7 linked regions of the Homo sapiens genome follow. The protein of the gene in region 4 purifies or fractionates together with the protein of the main gene of each other region. This does not show direct contact. Each region holds a gene or a part of one and is shown on either strand. Other genes may lie near its edges. The genes, in order: ERN1, NFU1, SPDL1, HMGCS1, NMD3, MVD and SEPTIN2.

Region 1 (3,962 bases), on a different chromosome or scaffold from region 4:
GTTGGGCCAGGCAGCGTCCTCCCTAGGAGGCAGGGACACAGTAGTGAATGCAGCAGTCAAGCACTCCTGTCCTCGAGGAGCTTACATTCTGGGGGCTTCCCTCTGGCCAAGGCCCCAGTCAGACCCCAGGAGAGCATGATGGTCACTTCTCAGTACGGTGCCCACCAAGCTGCACTCTGCCTGGACCCAAGGGGAAAAGCACTGCCCCACAAGCCTGCTTTCAGAGCCACGTGCTGGGCAGGAGGCGTTCGGGTGAGTTATGTTCAATTCATACATGGAAGACTTTGAAAAACACATTACCTCTTCAAAAGTCACCTGACATTGTCACAAAGCTTTAAAACAGTCAAATCACCAAAGGAGTTCTAACTTTGCAGAACCTATTTTAAGCAAAAGGAGATCTGGGCCAAGACTGTGTAAAAGATGATAGAAACAAATACAATATAAGAAAGCACTGAAATTTATGACACTTGGGCTGGGCCTGGTGGCTCATGCCTGTAATCCCAGCACTTTGGGAGGCTGAGGCGGGCAGATCACCTGAGGTCCGGAGTTCAAGACCAGCCTGGCCAACATGGTGAAACCCCATCTCTACTAAAAATACAAAAAAACTTAGGCAGGCGTGGTGGTGCATATCTGTAATCCCAGCTACTCAGGAAGCTGAGGCAGGAGAATCACTTGAACCCGGGAGGCAGAGGTTGCAGTGAGCCAAGATTGCACCACTGTACTCCAGCCTGGGTAACGGAGTGAAACGCTGTCTCAAAAAAAATAAAAATAAATAAATAAGCTTATGACACTTGAATGAAATTATATGATGCCTGAGATTTACTTCGAAATAACCTGGGGTGGGGAGAGGGTGAAGGTTAATATTTATTGAACCTGAGGGATGAATAAAGGAGTGCTCATTATAGCATTTAAACATTTATGTATTATATATTTGGAAATTCCATAATATAAAGCTTAACCATTATGGCACATCCATATGATAGAATACTATGGTCATTGGAATTTTAGAACTTTAACATGAAAGAAACTTAAAATATCATGTACAGTTAAAAAAAGGGATTCTGAAACTGTATATACGGTTAGATCCCAATTATACTTTTATATATGAAGAAAACATTAAAACATCAGCCATGATTATCTTCCAGTTTTAGGGTAATGGGCAATTTATTTTATTCTTTGTCCTTTTCTGTATTTTCAAAATCTGAAAAACATTAAATGAAGACTCTGGATAAAGAGAACAGACGTCTCTACCTGGAAGAACTGGAGCTGCTTCTCTAGGCTCCAGAAGAACGGGTGTTTGAGCACATGCTTCGCTGAGGGGCGTTTCTGAGGATCCATCGCAATCATCTTCTCTATCAATTCACGTGCAATGACGTCTTCTATAAAGGAGGAAAATAAGCAACTCATGACTACCAGTCCAAAGCCACAGTGAAATACCAAAAACTTTAAAAAGCTGCACACCCTCTCATTTATGATTCTATTTACAGGAATTTATTCCAATAAAATAATTAGGAACAGACACAAAACCTCAGCCAAAGAGGTGAGTCCTCACTGCATGGTTTGTGAAGGAAGTGACTGTAAACATCCAGTATCAGAGGCCCAAGTGGATACACTACGGTGCCTCCCTACGCTGGGCCATGAGCTGTTAAAGTGCGGCTGTGACTAAATATGGATTGACGTGGAGAGAGATTCAAGGTGACGCTGAAAAACGTGCATGCTGCAAAACAGTATGCAGGATTTAACTGTATTTTTATAAAATATGCAATCACGTCTAGATAAATGACTGGAATAACGTATATGCAAAGGTATCAATAGCCATCATTCATCCCTGTATAATGGGAATATATGGGCCTTTATGCTAATCTGTGTTTTCTATAATAAGAAAAATTAAGCATAAACAAAACAATAATTTAGTTGTAATTTTTTCAAAAGGCAGCACTGGAGTGTCATGGGCCAATTACCACCCAGGAAAACCTGAAGTCTGGAAGAAAGACTTGTTGCACCCATACCAGGAGACCAGGAGGGTGAGGATAAAGCTTGTCTGTCCCCAGCCCAGCACAGACTGCACCTACTGACCACTCGCCATCCCAAGAGAGAAGACAATTTGTCTTCCCAAATGCCAGTGCAGGAAGGGACCTCTGATTATTCAACCCTCATGTCACCAGGTAGAAAAAGAAGGTCTCCAAAGGGGGCTTTGCCTAGGTCACACAAGTAGTTGGTGACCTGGAGGAACCTTGGAGCATCTCAGCTTTAGAAGGTGGCGCCCCAGAGATAACCCTACCAACCCTCTACCAGATTTGGCACAAGTCTGGAGGTCCTGAGGCCTGCGGGGTGAGCAGCTGGGGCACCACGGCCTCTGTGAGTGCAAAGGTGGCACCAGCCCAGCTCTGCAGGGCCACCTGAGGCAGCTGAGGAGCTGCTCCCAACCCCAACCCCTGGACCGCTCACCGTGCTTCTCTGGGTGCAAGCAGTCAAGGCTGCAGGCACCCAGGAGGATGTTGGCCTGCCGCTGCAGGGACTTGCCAAAAGGGTGGCTGCCCTCAGAGATTACGTAGTAAAAGACGCAGCCTGCAGAAAAGATGTCCACCGTGTAGGTCTGAAAAGAGACATGAGGCGTGAGAGGTCTGGGAGCAGAGTTTTCATCCTCACTCACAGTCAGGGAGGGAGGAGCATTGCTGCTGCTTCTGCCACCTAGAAGGTGTCCTGGGAGAATCAGCTGACATATGTGAGCTGCACAGAGCAGCGAGGGCTAACCTGCAGCACTGCATGGGTGTCAGAGGTCCCAGTGGAGAACCTGGGCTTGGAGCCACCTGGAAGCCCCTGGTTCCCTCTCATGTGAGATGAGGACACTGACAGCATGGGGCTGTTGTCAAAAGAGATGCATTAATATGCAAAAATGGTTGCTTACGACAGTGCTTGGCCCATCAAAAGCCCTCCTGGCTGTTATATATTCCTTACCCCCAACACGAAAGTGCTCACAGACAGGGTCTCTGTGTCGTTGCTTCCCTGCTGTACCCCCAGGGCCCAGAATGGTGCCTGCACACAGTAGGTATCAAAATTGCTAATAAGTGAATAAAACAGCTTATGATTCAAAAACAGCCCTAGAAAGAAACTATCTGACAAGTTACCAAGGAGGTCATGTTTGATGTTAATCCGAGAAAGCCTCTCACTTATCCCATGAAACCATTCTGTGTCTACAGAATAGCTTCCTTCGAGGGAAATGTACGTTTGTGTTTTTTAGCTCATGCTACCTGGGGTGTAATACCAAGGTGGTTCCTGAGCACAGCTTGGGTCCCTGTTAGTAGGCCCTGCCTCTGAGATTCTCCACCAGGTGAAGTGAGGGTCTAGTGTGAGGAAGCAGGGGCTCATCACCTCCCATGCTGGAGGAGACACACCTTGAACAACACAGCACTCTCATTCAGCCTCACAACAACCTTGTGAGGCGAGCAGAGCAAATGCTTTCATCCCCAGATGAGAACGTGGACAGAAAGGTTGCATGACAAGCTCAGGGTCACTGCTGGATGTGATAAACCAGGATGGGACTCAGGTCTTCCAATCTCCAAACCTACCATGCTTTATTCTACCTCACTGGATTTTCCCTTAGGAAGGTGCTGGATTCGGGACAGGAGGAACATGGCCACCACAGCTGGAGCTCGCCCCTGACTCCCAGAGCTCTCTGGGTCTTTCACGCCCCCCACACTCTCTGCAGCCTGCTGTCCCCAGCACAGACAACACTAAGGTGAAGAGGCATCTTTCCTACCTGCCTGGCCCCAATTATGTTCTTTCCCAAACTTATTATTGCCACTTGTCCTTGTAATTTGGATATTCCATAAGCTGTTAAACATGAGTGCCACGAAGTCTGAGGTAAGCTGAATCTTTAGAAAGACTCGATAAAGGAAAGGGAATGGTTACAAGAGCTGCTGCGGCATTTGGTGTGGTGGATTCAACCGTAAGGGACTGGG
Region 2 (4,272 bases), on a different chromosome or scaffold from region 4:
CAGTGGGAGGACCAAAGCAGCTTCTTCTCTTTTCTTCAGCAATTCTGATTGATAAGGTAAAGGCTGGGCATGCTGAGGCAGTTTTTCTAATTTGGCCATCTCCATCTTAACCAATAGAAACTGTGTCCAGATTCTGGGAGTTAGTTTTCAAGTTTTTCACCTTTTTTTTTTTTTTTTTTTTTTTTTTTTTTGAGATGGAGTCTCGCTCCGTCCCCCAGGCTGGAGTGCAGTGGCGTGATCTCAGCTCACTGCCACCTCCGCCTCCCGGGTTCAAGCAGTTCTCCTGCCTCAGCCTCCTAAGTAGCTGGGATTACAGGCGCGTGCCTCCGCGCCCGGCTAATTTTTGTATTTTTAGTGGAGACGGGGTTTCACCATGTTGTTCAGGCTGGTCTCAAACTCCTGACCTCGTGATCTGCCCACCTCGGCCTCCCAAAGTGCTGGGATTATAGGCGTTAGCCACCATACCCGGACATTTTTGATTTCTTTTTTTTGGTCTTAAGCAGTTCTTTGCTACTTAATTGGGGGCTAGTAGCCAGATACCATTTTTAAAACAGACTTGTTTAGCTGTTTCTTAAGCTAAAAACTTCAGTAAAAATAGTTTTAGATATTTCACAAAAAGCTATTTTAGAATATTCTAAAAAGCATTCTGTTTCTTCCTGTATGGAAAAAAGTAAATAAATTAGATGGGGGGAAATGTATTTTAAACTCCTTCACACATATGCAAAGAAAGAGCCATGGGAAATGAGGGACAAAAATAAAAATATCCTTGGATAAAATCCACGTGTACAGAAGATGATTCAAGAGGTTATAAATAACTCATATGAGGTAAAGCAAACATGCAATATTTATATATCATTCTCTGAAGAGCATATTTTATTAATCTTCAAGTTCCTCAGCATATTAATAATAAAAACTTGATATATATTATCAACAAGTCTGACTGTTATGCCCAAAGAAAATCCAGATTATTTTAAGGTGAGTTTGCTTCTTTTTCATCTGATTCATCATCCATAACCTAAAACCAAAAAACAAAGACAATTTAAGAATTAAGAAAATGATTAGATTTTGCTGTTTTCCTGATTTTAATATTACTTCTTTACCTGATACACTCTATAATGAGGCATGACAAGCCAGTAAGAATAAATCTATCAACAGCCCCAAAGAACAAGGTTTGAATCATAACCCGGTATCCTAAAAACATAAAAGCAACCCCATCTCTACTGAAAATACAAAAAATTAGCCAGGCGGGCGCCTGTAGTCCCAGCTACTCGGGAGGCTGAGGCAGGAGGATGGCGTGAACCTGGGAAGCAGAGCTTGCAGTGAGCCGAGATCGCGCCACTGCACTCCAGCGTGGGCAACACAGCGAGACTCTGTCTCAAAAAAAAAATAAAATAAAATAAAAGCAAATTAAATATTTGGAAATTAATTAAAGCATTGATCACTTCTCCTTGTCTCAAAGAGGCTACCCATAGCAGAGTCTCAGCTGGGCAGAAAAGACTATAAATAATTAACTGGGGCCAGGCGCGGTGGCTCACGCCTGTAATCCCAGCACTTTGGGAGGCTGAGGCAGGCAGATCATGAGGGCAGAAGATCAAGACCATCCTGGCTAACACAGTGAAACCCCGTCTCTACTAAAAATACAAAAAATTAGCCGGTCGTGGTGGTGGGCGCCTGTAGTCCCAGGTACCCGGGAGACTAAGGCAGGAGAATGGCATGAACTGGGGAGGTGGAGGTTGCAGTGAGCCTAGTGCCTGGTGATAGAGCACTCCAGCTTGGTGATAGAGCAAGACTCCGTCTCAAAAAAAAAAAAACAATTTAACTGGTATTCTCTAGCCATAAGACTAATGTAAATGACTTTTTCTTTTTTTCAAAACCATCTTATTTACTTAAATATATTCTGTGAAGCTATACCAAATTGTTATTTTAAAAACATTTATTTTTATTAAAATGAATCCCCAAGGAAAGTGAAAAACAAAACAAAACAAAAAAACCCCACCATATTAGGAACTAATTATTTTAGTCTTACTGAGATAAAAGATCATTTTAAGCCTCAGGAAAATGTTACAACAGCTATTATCTTTCCATGAGTTAATGTATTACTAAGATAACAGACTAACTCCATTGGAGAAGGAAAAAGTTACATAAACCTAAGAATGTTTTTTTCTCCTCACCACACCTACTACAATTAGATGCCAATTCAAGTTTCTAATCTGAAGGCCAATTCATCACCCTACCCTGGACAATTGAATAAAAATGTTCCTCAGTCAATCCACCAAAGTATCAACTAACATAATTTTTTAAGGCATATAGATGATAATGGAACAAAGTAAGGTTTTTTTTTTTAAAAAAAATCTAGGCCAGGCACAGTGGCTCATGCCTGTAATCCCAGCACTTTGGGAGGCTGAGGCAGGTGGATCACCTGAGGTCAAGAGTTCAAGACCAGCCCGGTCAACATGGCGAAACCCCCATCTCTACTAAAAATATAAAAATTAGCCAGGCGTGGTGGCGCGCGCCTGTAATCCCAGCTACCTGGGAAGCTAAGGCAGGAGAATCATTTGAACTCGGGAGGTGGAGGCTGCAGTGAGCCAAGATCAAGCCATTGTACTCCAGCCTGGGCAACAAGAGTGAAACTACGTCTCAAAAAAAAAAAAAAAAAAAATCCAGATTCTGGCTCTGATCTGAGACAATCAATAGAAAAAGAATTCTTTCATAGGCTGTCTTTTTGGTTGAGTAAAAATTGGTATTTATTCCCAAGAAATTAATATTTTACATCCAATTTCAACAATACCCAATCCAAAAAATTTTGTCAACCAACTCATATTTTAGGCAGAATTATTCCTTAATTTGGAATAATATTCCCAAATACTTAATACAAAGCATGTATAGGACATTTGTAAGGCACACAGCTAGTTGTTGCAGAGGAACACAAAGACTTGGATATGATTTCAAGTCTCTTAGGGAGCTTCCACGTAAACATAAAGCTAAAACAGATACAGAAAGCTACATAAACATAAAGCAAAAACAGAAGCTTTGGACCTGTCAAAGAAGAACTTAATTCCAAGTGGGGGATGGATAAAAACTTCAAAGAGAAGATGTCATGTACTGGACCAAAACGATGGTGTGGAGGCTAAAGCAACTCCATCTTGGATGCTAATCTGCCACATTGACTACCCTCAGTTCTAGGAATGCCTCTAAGTTTTCTACTTAATTCTGCCTTTAGGTCAAAATAATCTTGATGTTATCCTAAACAAACACATACTTAGCATAAATCTTGCCCTTAAGCAAATTATAGGCTATTAGGCAAATAGCATTCTTGCCTTTTCCAGAGGGGCTGACTTCAATTGTCCTACACATATCTTCTGAAGCATGTATACCCATTCCTCCTGGTATATAAGCCCTGAGTCTAGCGGGTAACAATGCAGGAATCCATCATCTTGCAGCTGCCCGATAAATGGCTTCTGTTCCTCAGTCCCTATTAAATGTTTCTTTCTGACCAACTGGATTTGCCAGCCTCTGTCTTCAGCCTCTCAGCTCCCTAAGACTTTGGGGATAGGTCTATATAGACCTGCTCACTGTGGAACAGATGAATTTTAATACTACCCAAGGATGAGTGATTCCCAATGGAGCCCTTAAGGGCACAGAATTACCTGAGGTGGTCAGGCACGGTGGCTCATGCCTGTAATCCTAGCACTCTGGGAGGCCGAGGCGGGCAAATTGCCTGAGCTCAGGAGTTTGAAATCAGCCTGGGCAACATGATGAAACCCCGTCTCTACTAAAATACAAAATACAAAAAATGGTGGCATGTGCCTGTAATCCCAGCTACTCATGAGGCTGAGGGATGGGAACTGCTTCAACCTGGGAGGTGGAGGTTGCAGTGAGCCGAGATAGCGTGTCACTGCACTCCAGCCTGGGCAACAGAACAAGATTCTGTCTCCAAAAAAAAAAAAAAAAAGAATGAATTACCTGAAATTCTGTGGGTTGGAAATTTCTAATTTCCACACATCCCTTCACTCCTTGATAATCTCTCTCCATAAGGCCATGCTTTTTGGTTGAGAATCACTGCAGTGAGACTCATTATTACTGATGACAAGGTGCTGTGTTATACTCCTTAGGTATGTTGGCAAAAAAAAAAATGTTGATATTGTGCTACACGTAAAGCTCTAGAATTCTACTCAGTATAACAACAAACTATGATTTCTTAATGGGCTTCTTGCTTGCATATTTAAGAATACATAGATTAGGCCAGTTGTGTTAATCCTTAATCCCAGCATT
Region 3 (3,962 bases), about 130 Mb from region 4:
GAATCTATATAAACTATATATTTTAAAGTTTATTTGGCTATATATTTTTCCTTGGGAATTCAATATTTTGACTTTAGGCATGAATGCTTCACTGTTCTCTCTTGGTGTTTTGAAAAAGGTGGTTCATAAGATCTCAGTGTGGAGATGAAGAGACAGCGGCAGAGTCCAGGTTCGAATCCTAATCCTCGTATGTGACAGCCATGTCTTTGGGGAATTATTTAACCTCTCTGAGCTTCATTTTATCTGTAAAATGGGGATTAAAAGCACCCACTTCACTTGGTATTGTGTATTAGAAGGATTAAATGACAAGAATAGGCCAAACTTTCTGAATATTGGTAATATATGCCTGTTAGCTCTACCTACAAAATATAAGCAGAATCAGACTACTTTTATGATGGATACTTCCCTAGTCCAATCCTATCATGTCTCATCAAAGACTACTGCAATGCCTTCTATCCTCATGGCCTAATATCATTCTATCTAAACAGGTCATAAACACAGCCACTGAATTAACTGCTCTAATATCTTTTCCCTATGCCCATTATCGATGTGTTTCATTTTCAAAATCAAAATGTTAGTGGAGTCTGAGGAACACTGGTAGCACAAGGGGTTGCTGTTTTTGCTCTACATTGTTGCTTTTAGACCATGATTTCCCCTTTTTCTGGCACTGCTCCTTTGAAACCCACATTATCAGGATTCACTACCCTGCCTCCTGTCTATTTGCTGTGTTCAGTTCAACAGATGTTTGAAATTCATAATGGATAATTCTTAATCAGGGGAGCCTATTAGAATCATGGAAGAAACAAAAAGAGTTAAGAGCAAGAGAAGCCTTTTAAAATTGTGTAAAAACCTTCCTATTTTTGGCAACCTCCCCACTATTGTTGAGAATCATAGCAGTTCACTGAGACAATACGAAGAGAGACTGAGGCATGTGCAGAGTGCGGGGACAAAAACTTGTTGAGAATCCTTAACCTAAAACATGTAACACTCTTTTAGGGAAGGGGTGTTGTAGAACCATCACATTCTTAGACTCCTTCACACTTGGCCTTTTGTTTTTGAATTTACATACAGTAAACTTCACTCTCTGTAGTATATAAGATGCAGAGACTGTATGGTTAGGCTACTTTCCAGCTCAGTCATTAGACTTGCTAGATATTCCCTAATATGTTTCATTGTTCTTTCCTTTCCCCCCCATTTTGGTGGAGAATGGGGTCTTGCTATATTGCCCAAGCAAATCTCAAATTCCTGGGCACAGCTATCCTCCTCCCTCTGCCTCCCCAAGAGCTGGGATTACAGGCACGAGCCACCACGCCTGGCTCACTGTTCTTCCTTAATAAAAGAATTCCCAATATTTAGTTAGGAACATGGCCCCTGAGAATCAAGACTGCATTTCTCAGCCCTTCCTGTCAGCAGGTGAGGCTGCATGACTAAATTCTGCTCCACAGGATGGCAGCAGACCAACAAACACAAGAAGCCTGAATCTTGATACCGTGGAGTGCTTTCCCAGTCCTGGAAGGCCTCCTCCAGACTTCCATCAGAGGCAGAGATAAAGACCCACCTTTTTAAAGTCTCCATTACTTTAGATTTTCTATAAACAGTCCTACCTCGTATAGCTTCCAAACATCAGCTGCTTCAACATAATTAAACTATTAGGTATGACATAAAATACTGTAATCTTAAAATGGGAAAGTCTCAAATCTCAAGTTTCTACTATACAGTATGATGAAATTAGATATCCAAAAAGGATACATGTTATATTCAGGCACACCCAGTATCCAGTTCTCCCTGAATTTTCCTACCTATTTTACACAATAAATTTGCTTTATTAACTATAGGTATATAACTACAAATGAGTTTGTAATAGAGTTGCATAAAACTACAGTAAGAAAATAATTTGATATAATTTCAGGTTACTCATAATTTAAAAGACAAAAATATATGAGACATATATACCTTCAGGTTCATATTTTAGTTTCAATTCATCTAGTTTAGCTCTCAGTTTCATATTTTCACTTTCTGAAAGCTGGAGGCATCTTTCATTTGCAAAAAGTTTTCGCTCAATATCTAGAGCCCGCTGGCTCTCAAATAATGCTTTCATTCGCTGTATGGACAATTCACCTTTAGTGCTTTCAATTTCTTTGCTATGATAATAAAAAAGGAGAACCAACGAGTATTAAGACAGCATATAATAAGTGTAGTGGTATAAATATTTCATCGCATATTTGAATTCTTAGTTAAAAATACATTTTTCTGGGGTTTTTAGTAACAAAGAAACAATAAACAATTTAAATAATCCTTAACAATAGTAGTGTTAAATTTAAAAAATACTCATGCATTCTTGAAAGGAAATGGACAAAGGAGGAAATAGTCTTTCAAATGTATTCACACATGAATATCTGCACAAAGATATTTTTGTTACCTTTCTTTTCGGAAAATTTCCTTTGGCAATTTCAAAAAAACTTTGTAGTCACTGACACTACCATAGTAAGCAAGTGACATGTTCATCTTTCCATCCACCAACCCAGACACTTACTTTAAGTTATCCAGCTTCATCTGAAGTAAATCTGTATAATAGGTGTTATCTTCCAGAGTACCAGAGTCGACTGAAGGCTTAGATTCCATACTGTCATATAAATTCTTAAAAAAGCAAAAGTTTGTATTACTTAAAATAAATAACAAATAAGGTTAGTGTATGTTTATTAATAATAGCACCATCACTTCCTGAATTTATATCCCTTGGCGTACTACGCTAAGAACTACCCATTTAATTTATCTGCCTTCTGAAGTAGGTAAATAATTAACATTCCTCTCTTACAGATAAGGAAACAGGCTCCGAATACAGATGAAAGTAAACCAAGAAGAGAGAACCTGAACCCAAATCTGACTACAAGGCCTAGGCTTCTAGCCTTACCTACATGCTCTGCCTTCTCTCTCCTGGCTTTGAAAATAGAAAAACAAATGCCTGCTGGATTAAATTCTGGCCTTTGTAACAAAACCATAAACTGGAAAAATATGAAAGGAAGATGAGAGCCTTACATTTATATCTGGTGTCCCCCTCTTCTGAGATTCTTCCCCCCACCCCAGGCAAGAATGTAGTGCAAGCTCTTCTGAGACTGATGGAAACTATACATTTCTCTAGTGGGATAGAAAAGGTAAATCTGCTTAAAAACTTGAAACAATTTCAGGTTATAAATAAAATTCCCCTGATTTAAGGCCATAATTTTCAGAGTATAGTTCTGAGCCCACTGATGGAAACATAAGGCTGCCAACTTAACCAAATTTGTAGTTCTTTCAACAGTTTTTATAAGACACAGAAATAAAGTTATGTAAACTTAATTAAGATTTTATGACATACTAATGGCTACAATTTAGAATGCCTAAGAGGTTATTAACATTTACAAAAATTTGTCATTTAGAACTTTAGTTCATTAGGAGGTTAATGAAGATATCAATGTTCCCTAAGTCAATTTATAAAATCTTAAATTGCATGCAATTTTAATAGAAAGCCAACAAGCTTTTTTTGGTGCTAGACAAGATGTTTGTAAATGAAAGCTAACATTCAAAAATAGACAGGAAAATACTGAAAAATAAAAAGTATAGTGAGGAAATAGTCCTACCAGATAAACATACTTAAAAGCCTTTATAATTAATAAAACAGTGTGGTACAGACACACAGAGAAGCAGACCAATGGCGTAGACAGAAAATTTAGAAACAGACTCAAGTATATATGGAAACTTGATGTATGATAAAGGTGTCAACTCAAATCACTGGGATCAAGATTGATTTTTTAACAAATGACTCTGGGACAACTGCCTACTTATTTAGAAAACATGGGTGAATTCTTACACACACACACACACACACACACACACACACACAAATGCTTACACAAATACCATTCTCAACTAAAATAAACCAATGTTCCTTGAAGAAATGCTAATCCCAGAAGTGGGCCAGGTGA
Region 4 (3,962 bases):
GTGGTGGCAGATGCCTGTAGCCCCAGCTACTCAGGAGGCTGAGGCAGGAGAATGGCGTGAACCCGGGAGGAGGAGCTTGCAGTGAGCAGAGATCATGTTACTGCACTCCAGCCTGGGTGACAGAGCAAGACTCCGTCTCAAAAAAAAAAAAAGAAAAAGTAAAAATCAATCAATCAATCAATCAATCAATCATGTATTCATCATAGATAAACCAGTCCTCTTTTAAAAAAGGGACTAAAAAGTAGTGTCTAGATTTACTTACCAATAGCAACAAAAATCACTAGCTACTCAAGACCATTGTTGGGCATTTAACTTACCAGAGCTTCAGCTTCTTTAACAGGTTGTATTAGTCAGGAAAAGAAAAATTACTATAGATATTTCAAACAGAGGGGAGTTTTAATGCAGGGAAATAGCTACAAACTTGTTGGCTGGGCTGGAAGAACAAAGCGGAAAAGGTGGTTCTCTGATCCCATGAGCCTGCACTCCTGCTGAAGCTGCTGGAGCTACAGTACTAGTACCTCTGCTGCTGAGCTGGAACCCAGAGACCCAAAGTCCCACTGTTGGTGCTGCCACTGACAAGAACAAGAGAGGTACCTTCTTCCCACCTTCTAATATTTCTTGAGTACTTCCAATATTTCTTGAGTACTTCCATCAGCCCTCTAACCAGAACCCAGATGGCATAAGAACCAATGAAATGTAATTGTGAGGCTTTGAAGAGTGGCACAGCTCCTCAGTTTTAGAGAAAGAATCCTAAAACCTAAAATTCTACAACTCAATTTCCTTTTTAGGTATGACATCATTGGATGGTGCTACTTAGGTGGCAGAATTTCATTGACCCAAAGGTCTTGGGTTATGAGTTACCTGGGCCGAACTGATTCATGAACATTCTGTATGACTTGTTTGTCAACCCATCACTAATTTGATACTTAAAAATGAAAGTCAAATCCTGTATTTATGTCATTTGTCCTCTGCTGCTCTGCAATTAAAGGTCTTAAGGGGCCAGGTGCAGTGGATCATGCCTATAATCCTAGCACTCTGGGAGGCTGAGGCAGGAGGATCACTTGAGCCCAGGAGTTCAAGACCAGCCTAGGCAACATAGCAAGACTCTGTCTCAACAAAAAAAATTTTTTTAAAATGAGCTGAGCATGGTGGTGCATGCCTGCAGTCCCAGCTACTAGGGAGGCTGAGGTAGCAGGATCACTTGAGCCCAGGAGTACAAGGGTGTAGTGAGCTGTGATTGCACCACTGCACTCCAGCCTGGGTGATGGTGAGACCTTGTCTATAGAGAAAGGAAAAAAAAAAAAAAAAAAGAAAAGACTTAAGGGATACCAGTTGTATCTTCCTTCCAAACAGAAGAATCTTTTTTTTTTCTCATTCATCCAACCAATGCCAACATGTTACATACTAAACATTAGGGATGCTTAATGGGAGACTTCCTTATCCTCTCGAATATTCACTATTTTATGGGACAATAAGAGAAAAACACATAATAATAAACAGGTAACAACATTGAGAACCACATTATATAATGGAGAACTACCTAACCCAGCCTGGTGGTAGGGCAAGGAGTGTTAGGAAAAGCATCCTGGTTATAGGGGCCTGACTTGAGCCCCAGGAATGGGTAGGAGTAAGCAGTAAAGCACTGAAGAAATGGAGGGTAGTAGATTTTCAACAGAGTGGACACCATGAAGAAAGGCAAGCTACAAGGAATTACAAAAAACTTTACTTGTCTATTGGAATGAAATGTGAGCTGAGTGGATCAGGTAAATAATAGATTAGAATAACTAGGTAAGGGTTAGGTCATGAAGGTTCTGGTATGCTGATGTTGAGGGCTTCAAATTTATCATGAAGATAGTAAGAAGCCATCGGAGAGTTTAAGGAATAACATGGTGATATTAGTTGTCAGGTCAGTGTTTTTCCAACTCCGGAATCAATTTAGTGGATGGCAAGCACACATTTAAAAAAATGAAACAGAAAAGAATACAAGATATAAGATTGCATGGCACAGGGTAAATGTAAAGATTTTTCTTGAATCAACCTTTTGTTTTAATTATTCATACATATATAAAGTATACATAAGTTGCAATACAAAGTGTATTTTTACTGGGGGCCACAGTCAAAAAAGTTTGACAGCCACTGTTTTATCCTCACTAATGCTGTTTTACAGTCACTGGTGCTGTGAATGGATGAGTTAGGAAGCTGACATGGCAGTCCAGATAAGACATGGGTCATGAACTAGAGCATTTACTACATGTGGAGCGAAGAGGAACAGCCTCCAAAAACATGGAAAAAGCAAAAGAACTGGCAGAAACTGTAACTGACTAGATGTTAGGGAAAGAAGAAAATGTATACAATGACTTCCAGATTTCCATCCTCAAGTGTTTTATGACTTGACAAGCACACTGTCAGATACACTAAATGAACAGAGATCCTCTCCACTTTGTTCTACTCCACTTCTTCCACACAAACCCTGTTTACTTTATGCCCTTTTCCCTGGTAAGTGGAGTTCAGCCAAACCAGCGCTCAGAACCACCACTGAGGAAGTGAAGAGATCAAGCTCAGACAAGCTGCTTTCGTTCCTGTCATTTCACCAACATCTCCATACATTTTTCCAGTTTGGTTTTCCTATCTACTTCCTTCCTATATGGGACTTAACACAAGATTCTTAACTTTCATGTATGCAGTTTATACTAGAAAACACACAAAGAGAACTACACTGAAGTCAACATTAAGGATAAATGCTAAATACTACCCAATCTTTCCCCATCTTACAACTACTTACCTACATAACCCTCCCTCTACCCTTTACTCTCAAATTATTATATTCTTTATCCAAAAACATTTAGTGCTTTCTTCAACAACCCACCTCGTGCTTCTGCTTATTGAAATCCTTTATAGCCCTAGATCACATAGGTCACATTTTACCCATGAAACCTTTCTAAATTACCTTTTGCATTTCTTGCCTATCCTTCTACATCATCATACTTCGTCAATTAAAGTCACTTTTTTGGGTAACATTTCAGAAATTGGGATTCCTCTTACAATTGCTATCAGACAGAAGCCAATTATGATGTTGTCATTGCTTACACATGGGAAAATAACAAAACTGCCAGCATGACATTTGCATATGACAGTCAACAGCCTGAAAGAAATTCCCAGAAATGATACTGGAGCATTCATTTCACCCTCTAGGAACCAAATGGACTGGGAAGGAAGTAGAAGATGGGGAATCCCTAAGCAGCAGTCAAAGTAGGCTGGCTTTGCATAATTGCAAAGCTGAAGGCCAGCACCAAAACCTTCGCATTCTTTTTTGGGATCTTGAAAGGAATGCTACATCACCAATTCTCTTGGCGGCACAGAGGATGTTTAACGGAAAATTACAGGTATTAACAACTCTGACTCCAAAAACAATTCAGAAGGCAGACTCTAAATATGTGAAATTTAGCAATTCCTTATGTGTTTTTTCACTTGTGTTTTCCATCTTATTGAATGTGCAAGTGACATATGACAAAAATCTATGTCTAACTCTAAAAGAGCTCTTTAAAAAATTCTAAGTAATCAAAAAAGCATTGTATCTTAATTTAATTGGCAATGAAGCATCTTAAATTTATTACATCCTAGATTCTTTAGATAGTACGAAATATAGCATTCAGTGCTTCAACTGTGTTACTTCCCAAATATCTGCCTGAATTATGGATTGAAATGTCTGGGTTTCCCCACCAAATTCATATGTTGAAGCCTTAACTCTCAATGTGATGGCATTTGGAGATGGGGCCTTTGGAAAATAATCAGGTTTAGATGAGGTCATGAGAATGGGGCCCTCATGATGGGATCAGTGCTCTTATAAGAAGATAAAACGAGAGCTTGCTCATGCTGTCATACTCTCTCTATGCCATGTGAGGACACGGGCAATCCAGGAGGAGAGCCCTGATCGGGAACCAACCACGCTGGCACCCTGACTT
Region 5 (3,962 bases), on a different chromosome or scaffold from region 4:
AAAGTCATTAGACTCTACCACCCGCAACTCTCTTTTTTATAGTAATCTATTCATCTTTGTATCACTTGTTTTCATTTCTCAAAAGATTTTAGCTTCTGGCTCACCATCACACTTTCCAACAATATTAATACCTAGCGATTTCAATATCCACACAGGTGATCCCCACAATACCCTGACCTCTCACTCCATTCTTTGAGTTCTTCTTCTCCCAAAATATTATCCACCTTCCTATCTCAGTCACTCATATGCCTCTATTACCAGTAACTGCAAACCCTCCAAACTATCAATTCCAAACATCCTACTCCCTGACTACCACCTCCCATCTTTCCAGCTTATTTCCTCTAGTTCCTGGGCACCAAATATCTTTCAAGCTAATATAATGGACAATCCATTCATCCTACCAACTTTATTCCTCATTCCTCCTCACTAGCTTCAAAATCAATAATCAAAATTATTCTCATGTACACACTCAATTTCCTTGTTCCCTCTCTTATTTCACCTTAGCCACTAGGCTAAATTATAAATTTGGTTAAATCCAGTGCTCTGCCTGCTCTATGCCTTGACTATGTGGCTGACAGAACTACAGAAATAGATGCACACCACAGTGACTAGTCTAAACTTGTAACAGTAACCCTCAGCACTGCCCAGCACCCATCCAACACTGTCCTGGTGCATTTCCTCTAGTTCTAGAGGACTATTTCATATCTTCCGCTCTCTCCTCAAACATCTATCTAACAGCTCTTCCCACATAGCTACTGCCCACGCTTCTGTTTTCTCCAGTACAAAAGAAGGAACCAGAGGAGAATTCCCAGAAGCTCCCACTCAACACCTTCCCTGCTGTTACCACAGATGAATTATCCATACTCCCATCAAGATCAACCTCCAGAATGCCCCTCTAGAGAGCAGAGATCTTTACTTTGTTCCATGAAATATTACAGCCTCCCAAAATGGTGCTTGGTGAAGAGTAAGTGCTGAATACTTGTTGAATGAAGGAGTGAATTAACAAATAAATGTATTCTTTCACTATGTACTATATCTCTTTTCCACTTATTGAGGCCACCCCCCAGCCAATTATTCTTCTCCCTGCAATTTCACAAAAATTTCCCTCCGTACTCTAACACTCCCAGAGAGCTTACAAATACAGTTATATATACCATCTTAAGAAATGTATCCTGGCCAAGCACAGTGGCTCATGCTTGTAATCCCAACACTTTGGGAAGCTGAGGCAGGAGGATCGCTTGAGCTCAGGAGTTCAACACCAGTCTGGGTATATTGTGAGATCTCTGCTCTACAGGGCCAAAAAGAGAGAGAAAGAGAGAGATCTCACCTCTAGTAAAAATAAAAATCAGCCAGGTGTGGTGGTGCATGTTTGTAGTACCAACTACTTAGGAGGCTGAGGCAGAAGGATCACCTGAGCCCAGGAGTTTGAGGCTGCAGTGAGACATGACAGCGCCACTGCACTCTAGCCTGAGCAATAAAGCAAGACCTTATCTCCAAAAAATAAAATAACATAAAAAGACAAGTGTCCCTTCCCCAACTTCCCCTTCAACCACTGCCCCATTTCTTTGTTTTCGTTTACAGCAAATCTCAAAAGAACTGTCTATCTTCCTTCTCCCATTTTAATTTCTATTTAAATGACATCTTTACCACCACCACTAAACAGAAATTGCCCATGTTATTAAGGTCGTCCACATTACTAAATCTACAGAACTCATTACTTGACTCATCAGCTGCAAATCACATAGCTACTCACTCCTTTCTTCTTAAAACACTTCCCTTTCCTCCCAGGACATCACACTCACCCTGTTTTCCTCCTACCTCCTAGCAGCTCCTTTCAGTCTCCTTTGCTGATTCCTCCTCATTACCCAATTATTTCTTCATCATTACCCATTAAAGGAATGATTCCAGGATTCAGTCCTCCAGTTTCTTTCCTTCTCTATGTAAACTCCTGAAATAATCTAATCCAATTCATGACCTTAAATACTATCTATATCCTAAATTCATTATCTCTAGACTGGACCACTCATTGGCTTATTTATCAACCTGCCTACTCAGTATTTCTACTTAAGTGTCTAGTAGACATCTAAATACCAGTTACAGATGAACTCTCATGCCCCCTACCCAGTGACTTGGCTGCTCAGGTCACGAACAGTGGAAGGCATCCTTAACTCTTCTGTCTCTTACAAAAACACATCCAGCTACATCAGTAAATGTTACTACCTTAAAAATAGATCCAAAATCTGTCCACTTCTTACCACCTCCATTGCTGATCCAAAACCATTTCTCATGATTATTACAAAAACTTAAACACCTTTACCTCCCTTACAACCATTCTAAAAACAGCAGCCAGAGGAATACTAATAAGTCATGTCATCTCACTACTCTGCCCTTCACCCTCTATACTCCTTACACTCAGAGTAAGAAACAGCCCCTATAAGGGCCTACAAGGCCAGACACACTGTGGCCTTCCATGACTTTTCTGGACTCTATCCCCAACTACTTTTCCCCTCACCACTCCGTTCTATTCACACAAGTATGCTCTTGCTTTTGGTCTCTACATTTGTTTTCTTTACCCCTAATGCTCTTCCTCCACATTTCTGCACAGCTTCCTCCCTTACTGTAATCTTTAGTGTTTACTCAAATGTCACCCTATCAGTGAGCCCTCCCCTAAACACCCTTACTTTAAATTTCAACTCTTCCATGCACAGTTCTTATCCTCTTCCTAGCTCCTTTCTCCACAGAATATACCTTTTAATATACCATGTAATATATCCACCTATTTTGATCGCTGCATACTAACATGCTGCTCCACACTGGCATGTTAGTGTGCAATTAGAATACACGCTTTCTAAGACAGGGATTGCCTTATTCACTGCCATATCCCCAACACCAAAAGCAGTTTGGCACAGAGTTGGTACTTAATAAACATCTGATGAATTAATTAATGAACTGTTAAGACTCACTAGACATTTGACAAAAACCCCAAGTATAAAAGCAAAAAACCAAGACACACAAAAAACTGACTTCATAAAAAAACAGAGACAAATGAGGGAACAGAAAGAAACAAAAAAAGTCCTATTATCAAAATCTTCAGAAAAACTTAAAAAAAATGCATCAAGAACATGAAAGACTCTGGAACTTAAAAACATTACTACTGGAAAAAAACAATTCATTAGAAAGATTAGAAGATAAAGTAAAAATCACCAAGAACAGAGGGGAGCGAAAAAAACCAAAAAGGTTTTTTAAAATATGAAGGGAAAAAGACAAAGTTTTATGCCAGAAGCGCCAAAAAGTGACCATCAGAAATTTGTGGGGTTGGCTGGGACCTAGTAGGAAAATAAAGGCAGAAATTTCAAAGAACTATTACATGAAATTTTATTAGAGCTTAAAGGAGAATCAGAAAAGTCTTCAATCTGAAAGAGTCAATTTCAATTAAAAACATGGTAGAAGTGAGTCATAAAGCTTAAAATAAAGAAAACTCATAGTGTCAATCACTTTCAATTTTATATCAGGAAATAAACTGTACTTTAAACAAACTATTTTTTTTAATACATTTATGCACTGACTTTCAGTGACAGGCACAAATATTTTATTTCCAGATCAATAATGACAATAAAAAGAAACCAAATAACATAGCCCTAATATTATAATCCCAATTATGTTTAGTGATGGTTTTACATAAAAATTTCCGTTAAAAAATTATACATGAGATTCTCGATAAATAACAAAGGAAAAAAATTAAATTCTGTCTTTTTAAAGCAAAAAGATATTTTTACTTTTCATAAAAAGAATATATATAACTTTAAAAAGTGTTTGTAGTGGGGTGCTACTGGCAACAATAGTAACATTTAATAGTTACTTTCGAGGCCAGCATGGTGGCTCACGCCTGTAATCCCAGCACTTTGGGAGGCCGAGGCAGGCAGATCACGAGGTCAGGAGTTCGAGACCAATCTGGCCAACAT
Region 6 (3,962 bases), on a different chromosome or scaffold from region 4:
CGCCACCACACCTGGCTAATTTTTGTACTTTTAGTGGAGACGGGGTTTTGCCATATTGGCCAGGCTGGTCTTAAACTCCTGACCTCAAGTGATCTGCCTGCTTCGGCCTCCCAAAGTGCTGGGATCGTAGGTGTGAGCCACTGAGGCTCACCAACAGTGATATTTATGGAAACGTGTCCATTTTCTTGTAACGTTCAGAGACTCTGGTCTTCTTTAAACCTTACGTTTGAGCTGGTTTTTGATAGCGCGCTGGTGGAGGAGGGGGTGCTGGCTCAAGATAAGGAGGCAGAAGTCCAGGTTCCCCTCCCCACCAACGCTGTCCCATCCCCACCAGGCCCTCAGGAATTCCTGAGTGTCTGCTTGGCCTCTGACAAGAGCCGGCAGGTCAGGGGAGTCCAGTCTCCCGTGTGCTCTCCAATGACTCCTGGGGAGGTGAAAGTCCCCACTCCTTCAGGGAGGGAAAGGGGGCGGGGCACTGTTCCAGCCTGGAGTGTGGGAGGGATCTGTTTCTTTTTTTCTTTTCTTTTTTTTTTTTTTTGAGAAAGGGTCTCCCTCTGTTGCCAGGCTGGAGTAAGGCTGGAGTGCAGTGGTGCCATCTCGGCTCAGTGCAACCTCCGCCTCCCAGGTTCAAGCGATTTTCCCGCCTCAGCCTCCTGAGTAGCTGGGATAACAGGCGTGCGTCACTACAGCCTGGCTAATTTTTGTATTTTTAGTAGAGATGGGGTTTCACCATATTGGTCAGGTTGGTCTCAAACTCCCGACCTCAGGTGATCTGCCCACCTCGACCTCCCAAAGTGCTGGGATTACAGGCGTGAGCCACCGCGCCCGGCCAGGAGTCTGTTTCTGTGTTGCTAGGCTGCCCTTCCTGGTCCTGCTAGGGAGGGCTGGCTTTGGTTGGCAGTTCCAGCTTCTGCAGGGCTAGGTCTAGGGCAAGCAGAAAAGAAAGCCCCGGGCTCCCCCTGCACTGTCCCACAGCCGCCCTCTGTCACCCGTGAGAGTCTCACCTGTGATGTCCAGGGTCTCAGTTGTCCCCAGTGGGAGGAAGCGGGAGAAGTCCCCTGGCCCACCTTCCTGAAAGCAGAGGTTCGCCCGGCCTGTCAGGGCAGCGGCGTCCGCCTGCAAGGGGGGCCGCTCAGTGCTGTGCGTGAAAGAGCCTCGCGAGCTGCAGGGCGTGGTTCTCTGCCAGGTGTCCGCGTTTATCACCCCTGGAACTGTCCGCCATCCTCAGAGACCTCCCCTCGCACAAAACCGAGCAGATGGTGTGCTTAGCGAAGCCGCCGTGGAATAAGACTTCAGCTGAAGCACCACGCAGCGCTCCCAGGGCAAACGTTTCCTTTCGGGCTTTCTGGAAGTTTGATTTCACGTGCTGTCCCATGGCCGTGCTGGGCAGAAAGGGGTTTATCCTGGATGTTCCTGGGGCATATGAGCAGTGAGATGTGAGGAGTTCTCAGAGCTGGGCTCCTTTTGTTTGGGAAGGTGGAGGGGAGGCAGGCCGCGGTGGGAGCGATCCGCACCTGGGCACTCACGGATGCTGGAGTAGAAGCGATGAAGGAATGGGGAGCGGGGACGGAGGTTGGCTGGCCTCCAGCTCTGCTCTGGGAGCCTGAGCTCAGTGGGGTGGGAGCAGTTCTTGCAGGCCGGGGTCTGGCAGGAGGAGGGGCACACAGGTTGTGCGGTGAGAGACGGGACTGAGGCGGATGGGGGCCGTGGGTGGGGGGTGGGGGCACCTGTGGGGAACACTGGGGGAGGGTGGGCCGGGAAGCCCACCGGCCTGGCCCTGGCTGTTCATTACAGGGGGCAAGCGCGATGAAGAGCTGGTTCTGCCCATCAACTCCTCCCTGAGCGTCACTCTGCACCAGGACCAGGTATGTGTGGACTGACGACTAAACACCACAGTGCCATTTCCAGAACATTTGTAGAACAGTTGGTACCCGTTGGGTATGGTGGCTCACATCTGCAATCCCAGCACTTGGGGAGAGTCTCTTGAGCCCAGGCATTGGAGACCACAGTGAACCATGATCGCACCACTGCACTCCAGCCTGGGTGACAGAGTGAGACCCTGTCTCTGAAACAAAAAAAAAATTGGTACTTTTTTACCTAAAGGCTAGGATGAGATGGCCTAGCGACGACTCCCAGCCAGCACGCAGTGTCTGTTCCATCTCCCAGTATTAGGAGAGCTGAGCACAGCACACATGTGCCCCCAGGTCTCGTCACACATGCGCACACCGTGCCCCAGGGGCTCCCCTGGGAGTCCCCGTCTCTTTATTCAGGATAAGGCCTGGTTGCTCCACAAGGTGTGGCCCACGCTTTCATCCCCCACGGGCTTCCCCACTGCCCAGCTGAGACTGGCCTTTCCCCCCCTGCCCTCAGCAGGGCTGACCTTGCTCGAGTGGGCAGCCATGAGGCTCTCTCAGTAGAAAGGGGTACCTGGCTGGCATCGGTCCTCAATGCTGGCCTCTGAGGTGGCCCTGGGTTTCCTTTTCAGTTAAAAACCACCACAACAGCCGTCATCAGCAAGGACTTCACCGAGGACCGGATTTGGCTGAATGGCCGGGAGGAGGATGTGGGGCAGCCGCGGCTGCAGGCCTGCCTGCGGGAGAGTGAGCTGGGGTCCCCATAAGCCCATCCCTCCCTGTTGTCAGCAGGGTCCGAGCATCCAGAAAGTGCTTCTGCCTCTGTGCCCCTCCTGAGGCAGCAGGCGGGGTGGCTGGGAACCAGACATGCCCGCTGGGCCGCCAGCTCCAGGGCAGTGGCCCACCTCAATGACCAGCTGGGCTTGGGTCAGTCTGGGGTTTTCCCGGGTAAGAAACTCTCCACGAGGAGTCTGGCAGGCAGAGGCCTGGTGTTCAGCTGTGACCCCGGGCAGGTGGGCAGGAGCAGGGCGGGCAGGGTGCTGACGGCTGGGCCACACGCTGTCTCATTGTCTCTGCAGTCCGCTGCCTGGCCCGGAAGCGGAGGAACTCACGGGATGGGGACCCGCTGCCCTCCAGCCTCAGCTGCAAGGTGCACGTGGCATCGGTGAACAACTTCCCCACGGCTGCGGGCCTGGCCTCCTCAGCGGCGGGCTATGCCTGCCTAGGTGGGTGCCCACAGAGACCCGCAGGGGTTCTGGGCTGTGGGCGCAGGAGCCACTTCATGCTCTTCCCGGGTCAGGGAGCCCACTGCTGGGCGTGGCTAAAAGAGCATCCCCTCACCCCAGGCCTCCCTGGCCTCTCTGGAGTTGTTCAGTCTCTTCCCAGAGCACATCTGAACATTTTCATCTTCCAGTTGCAGCTGGCGTGGGGCTCTCGCCTGTAATCCCAGTACTTAAGAGGCTGATGGGGGAGAAGCACTGTAGGCCAGGAGTTCAAGACCAGCCTGGGCAACATAGTGAGACCCCCCCCCATCTCTACAAAAAATAAAAAAATCTTCCCGTTGCTGTATGTGGAGCCCCTCTAGATTGTCAGTGATAGAAACCACTTCAAACTGGCTCAGCCCTAAAATAGCGATGATTTTGTGGCTCACGTAACTGAGGATTCCAATGGGCACAGCTGGTTGCAGGCCCCGCTGGACCCAGCTCTCTGCTGGCCCCAGGCCACTTGCTGGCAGCTTCCCACCCACTGTCAGAGCCTGTCCCCCCGGTGGTGGTCTCACACCATCTTCACCCCTCAACTCCAGGGGTGACGCTTCCTGGCCCACCTGGGCTCCTGCGCCTTCCCTGAACCACCCTCGGTGACCAGGGTGGGTGACCAGACCTGGAGGTGGGGTTGCCCTGCTGGAGCCCTGTGGGAGGAGGGGAGAAGGTGGCTCCCGTGCTGGGTGGGCAGGGGGCGCGTCTTGTGGAGTCCAGCTCTGTCCTGGCATCGGTCCCTGCCCCACACAGCCTTAAAATTCCTTCCCACCCTCAAAGCCCAGCTTGGGTGTCCTCGGGGGCCTTTCTCCCGCCTTCCATGGGGCTTCCTGCTCTGCCGCAGGTACCTTTT
Region 7 (3,962 bases), on a different chromosome or scaffold from region 4:
CTATAATCCCAGCTACTCGGGAGGCTGAGTTGGGAGGAGCAGTTGAGCCTGGGAGGTGCAGTGAGCCATAATTGCACCACTGCACTTTATCCTGGGCAATAAAACAAGACCCTGTCTCAAAAAACAAACAAAAACTTTAGATGGAAAGGCCAGAGGCTTGTGTCGAGTTCTCCTTCAAAAGCATCACTCTGTACGTGAGGACAAACTTGTTGCCATTAGGAAACTGCAGCACCTGAGTTAAGGGTGAGGCCAGGATGAGTGGCATCCAAGCAGCCAGTGGCCGTTGAAGCAGCAGCTTCGATCCTCGCAAAGTCCTGCAGCCATCCTCACTCACCTTTTCTTTTTAACCATTCTAATATGTTTTTATATAAGTTTTCTGGGAGGCCAAGGCAAGTGGATCACTTGAACCCAGTAGTTTGAGACCGGCCCTGGCAACATAGGGAGACCTCGCCTCTATAAAAATTTTTTTTAAATTAGCCAGATGTGGTGGTGCATGCCTGTGGTCCCAGCTACTAGGGGGAGGATTCCTTGAGCCCAGTAGGTCCAGGCTGCAGTGAGCTATGGTCGCACCACCACGCTCCAGACTGGGCAACAGAGTGAGACCCTGTCTCAACAACAAAAGTTTCCTGTGTTGTAATTCATTAAAATTCTCACATTCTAATAATTTGATGGATTTCTAGATACATATGTTGTACACATTGAAGTCTAATTATGAGTTTGGAAATGAGACATTAAGAAAGATTTTAGAGGCAGCAAGAAAATTCCACCCTCTGGAAGCTGAGTAGGCGCTGGCCCTGAGATGGAGATTAGTGTGCTTTGCAGAGCACAGTTCTCAGGTGTGCTTGGGGAGCTTACCCTTTGCCCCTCGTTCACTCACGCAGATCCTGCTCCTTAAATGTGGTGACTACATTCGCATTAATAAAGAATAACATCTCAAAGCAAATTCTTCAGATAATACCTATTTTTGAGTGGGTAACAGCAAGTGTTGTCGCTCAAGCTTAGAGTAAGAAAAGTCTCTTGAATGTTCCATTTCATGTTGTTCGAACTTTTTAAAATCATTCTGTTCCCTTTTTATTCATTATATCTTTAATTAGAAAAATGATAGGCTGGGCGTGGTGGCTCATGCCTGTATTCCCAGCACTTTGGGAGGCCAAGGTGGGCGGATCACTTGAGGTTCAACACCAGCCTGGCCAACGTGGCAAAACCCCATCTCTACTAAACACAAAAAAAATTAGCTGGGCGTGGTAGCACGTGCCTGTAATGCCAGTTACCCAGGAGGCTAAGGTGGGAGAATTGCTTGAACCTAGGAGGTGGAGGTTGCAGTGAGCCAAGATCATGCCACTACACTCCAGCCCGTGCGACAGAGTGAGACACCATCTCAATATAAAAAGAGAAATGATAAATACATGTCATTTTAAATTTTAAAGTAGAATTTTTTGGGGGGGTAGCAAATAACTATTTGTTGCAGTGTTATGATTCTGATTTCTTTCGATTCTTAGGAAAGTGGAGAATGAGGACATGAATAAAGACCAGATCTTGCTGGAAAAAGAAGCTGAGGTAAGTAGGAAAGTACTATTGGTTGGTTGGTTGGTTGGTTGTTTTGTTTGTTTTGAGACAGAGTTTTGCACCATTGCCCAGGCTGGAGTGCAGTGGCGTGATCTCGGCTCACTGCAACCTCTGCCTCCCGGGTTCAAGTGATTCTCCTGCCTCAGCCTCCCGAGTAGCTGGGACTACAGGTGCCCGCCACCATGCCTGGCTAGTTGTTTTTGTATTTTTAGTAGAGACGGGGTTTCATCATGTTGGCCAGGCTGGTCTCGAACTCCTAACCTCAGGTGATCTGCCCACCTTGGCCTCCCAAAGTGCTGGGATTACAGGTGTGAGCCACCGTGCCCAGCCAAAAAGTACTATTCTTGTGACTGAAGGTGTTTTGTTTACATCCGTAGATATCATTGGTAATTAACTTAAAGTTTATAGTTTTTTTTTTAATTTGTTGAGGAGGATACATATAACTACTTTATTACTATATATACACATCTATATATAATAATAAACATGGATATTTACATAGCATACATGATGCTTCATATATTTAGCTGAAAGACTTTGGAGACAATTTAGTAATGTCACTGATATTTGTAAGTAGATCATAAATATGGAAATATGCTCTGTTGTAAAGGTGGCATTCAGATCTGCTGGAGTTTTGGAAGGCAAACACATTATTCAGTAAACAATAGGATCATAATGGGCTAGCCTTTTGGAAACAAAAAGAAAATACTTCTTTGGTCAAATTAATTCAATATTGATCAAATATTTAAATGTTAAAAATAACCACAAAGTCACCTGAAGAAAATTTAAATGTTTTATAATACTTTCCTGGAGGCATTTCTGAACACATACAAATCATAATGATAAGGATAAAGATGAATTAACATTTACTATTTTTGGCCAGGCACTGTGGGTTACACTTATAGTCCCAGCACTTTAGGAGGCCAAGGTGGGAGAATCACTTCATGCCAGGAGTTTAAGACCAGCTAGGGCAACAGAGTGAGACCCCCCTCGTTCTCTAGAAAAAAATTAAAAAATAATTAGCCATGCATGTCGGCATGCACCTGTAGTCCCAGCTACTCGGGAGGCTGAGGCAGAAGGATCCCCTGAGCCCAGGAGTTCAAGGATGCAGTGAGCTATGATTGTGCCACTGCAGTCTAGCCTAGGTGAAAGAGCAAGATCCCATCCCTTTAAAAAAAAAAAAATATATATATATGTATATGTATGTATATATATTATTTTTATTGTGAGGCCTTCATTGCCCTCCAGAAAAGCTGATTCATTCCCATTCCCCTTTACTTTGCATTTCTCACTGTCATCAGTCTCTTTCCCTCCTTTTAGGTTAGAAAACTTCTCATATTGGCCGGGCGCGGTGGCTCACGCTTGTAATCCCAGCACTTTGGGAGGCGGAGGCGGGTGGATCACGAGGTCAGGAGTTTGAGACCAGCCTGACCAATGTGGTGAAACCCCGTCTCTACTGAAAATACAAAAATCAGCTGGGCGTGGTGGTGTGTGCCTGTAATCCCAGCTACTCAGGAGGCTGAGGCAGGAGAATCGCTTGAACCCGGGAGGCGGAGGTAGCAGTGAGCCGAGATTGCGCCACTGCACTCCAGCCTAGGAGACAGAGTGAGACTCTGTCTTAAGAAAATTTATCATATTGTCTTATCTTTCTTTGGTTATTGTTTCTGTTTGGCTTGCATATTCGTATCATTTACTTGATTTTCTCTTTAGCTGTTGCTTTTTTTATTGATTGGTAAAAAGTCTTTATGTAATAACTCCTGTCATATTTTGGGAAGGTGTAGAAGTTGAAATTTTAGGAATCACAGAACACCCAGAAATAATGTTCAAAGACAGCAAACCTTGAAAACCTATAATGTGTGTGTGTGTTCACAGCTCCGCCGCATGCAAGAGATGATTGCAAGGATGCAGGCGCAGATGCAGATGCAGATGCAGGGCGGGGATGGCGATGGCGGGGCTCTCGGGCACCACGTGTAAGGTGATGTGCACATATCAAGAAGTCAGAGGTAGGCCCTGTTGTCCCTTAGCCTGGAAGACAGGCAGTTACTAACATTGTGTCAGCTTAAATATGACAGGTTCCTCCTTAAGCCTCATTAATATTTTGCATTTTGAAGTAACTCCATCACTAATCTTAAACAAGGAGAGATTGCTCCTGAAAAACAGAAGCCACTACTTTGCCACCTACTTTCTAGTAAAGATTTTTCATATTTTTGTCTCTTCTTTTTTTTTTAAATAATTTCAACTTTTATTTTATTGGGGTACATTTGCAGGTTATTTTCTAAGCTTGCAAATACCAACATTAGAAGGAAATTATGTATTAAAGCACTTTTATTAGTTGTATTATTGGAAATTTGTTAATTGTTAAAACATCTCTTTAAAGGGAATAAAAACGTGTTATT

Evidence for each region.
Region 1: the proteins of HMGCS1 (region 4) and ERN1 purify together in Homo sapiens (affinity purification with mass spectrometry; one large-scale study listed by BioGRID and IntAct). This does not show direct contact.
Region 2: the proteins of HMGCS1 (region 4) and NFU1 fractionate together in Homo sapiens (co-fractionation; one large-scale study listed by BioGRID). This does not show direct contact.
Region 3: the proteins of HMGCS1 (region 4) and SPDL1 fractionate together in Homo sapiens (co-fractionation; one large-scale study listed by BioGRID). This does not show direct contact.
Region 5: the proteins of HMGCS1 (region 4) and NMD3 fractionate together in Homo sapiens (co-fractionation; one large-scale study listed by BioGRID). This does not show direct contact.
Region 6: the proteins of HMGCS1 (region 4) and MVD fractionate together in Homo sapiens (co-fractionation; one large-scale study listed by BioGRID). This does not show direct contact.
Region 7: the proteins of HMGCS1 (region 4) and SEPTIN2 fractionate together in Homo sapiens (co-fractionation; one large-scale study listed by BioGRID). This does not show direct contact.

Annotation. Positions count from the first base shown.
Region 1 is NC_000017.11:64,046,607-64,050,568, forward strand, and holds part of ERN1 (serine/threonine-protein kinase/endoribonuclease IRE1 precursor), read right to left. Parts: intron 2,597-3,962; coding exon 2,449-2,596; intron 1,380-2,448; coding exon 1,252-1,379; intron 1-1,251. UniProt on the Homo sapiens protein: Serine/threonine-protein kinase and endoribonuclease that acts as a key sensor for the endoplasmic reticulum unfolded protein response (UPR).
Region 2 is NC_000002.12:69,395,276-69,399,547, forward strand, and holds the end of NFU1 (NFU1 iron-sulfur cluster scaffold homolog, mitochondrial), read right to left. Parts: intron 1,016-4,272; coding exon 971-1,015; 3' UTR 851-970; downstream 1-850. UniProt on the Homo sapiens protein: Iron-sulfur cluster scaffold protein which can assemble [4Fe-4S] clusters and deliver them to target proteins.
Region 3 is NC_000005.10:169,597,151-169,601,112, reverse strand, and holds part of SPDL1 (protein Spindly), read right to left. Parts: intron 2,638-3,962; coding exon 2,534-2,637; intron 2,142-2,533; coding exon 1,954-2,141; intron 1-1,953. UniProt on the Homo sapiens protein: Required for the localization of dynein and dynactin to the mitotic kintochore.
Region 4 is NC_000005.10:43,299,511-43,303,472, forward strand, and holds part of HMGCS1 (hydroxymethylglutaryl-CoA synthase, cytoplasmic), read right to left. Parts: intron 1-3,962. UniProt on the Homo sapiens protein: Catalyzes the condensation of acetyl-CoA with acetoacetyl-CoA to form HMG-CoA, which is converted by HMG-CoA reductase (HMGCR) into mevalonate, a precursor for cholesterol synthesis.
Region 5 is NC_000003.12:161,227,649-161,231,610, reverse strand, and holds part of NMD3 (60S ribosomal export protein NMD3), read right to left. Parts: intron 1-3,962. UniProt on the Homo sapiens protein: Acts as an adapter for the XPO1/CRM1-mediated export of the 60S ribosomal subunit.
Region 6 is NC_000016.10:88,656,553-88,660,514, reverse strand, and holds part of MVD (diphosphomevalonate decarboxylase), read left to right. Parts: intron 1-1,794; coding exon 1,795-1,865; intron 1,866-2,485; coding exon 2,486-2,600; intron 2,601-2,932; coding exon 2,933-3,079; intron 3,080-3,267; coding exon of another isoform or gene 3,268-3,369; intron 3,370-3,962. UniProt on the Homo sapiens protein: Catalyzes the ATP dependent decarboxylation of (R)-5-diphosphomevalonate to form isopentenyl diphosphate (IPP).
Region 7 is NC_000002.12:241,346,635-241,350,596, forward strand, and holds part of SEPTIN2 (septin-2), read left to right. Parts: intron 1-1,499; coding exon 1,500-1,557; intron 1,558-3,438; coding exon 3,439-3,540; 3' UTR 3,541-3,569; intron 3,570-3,962.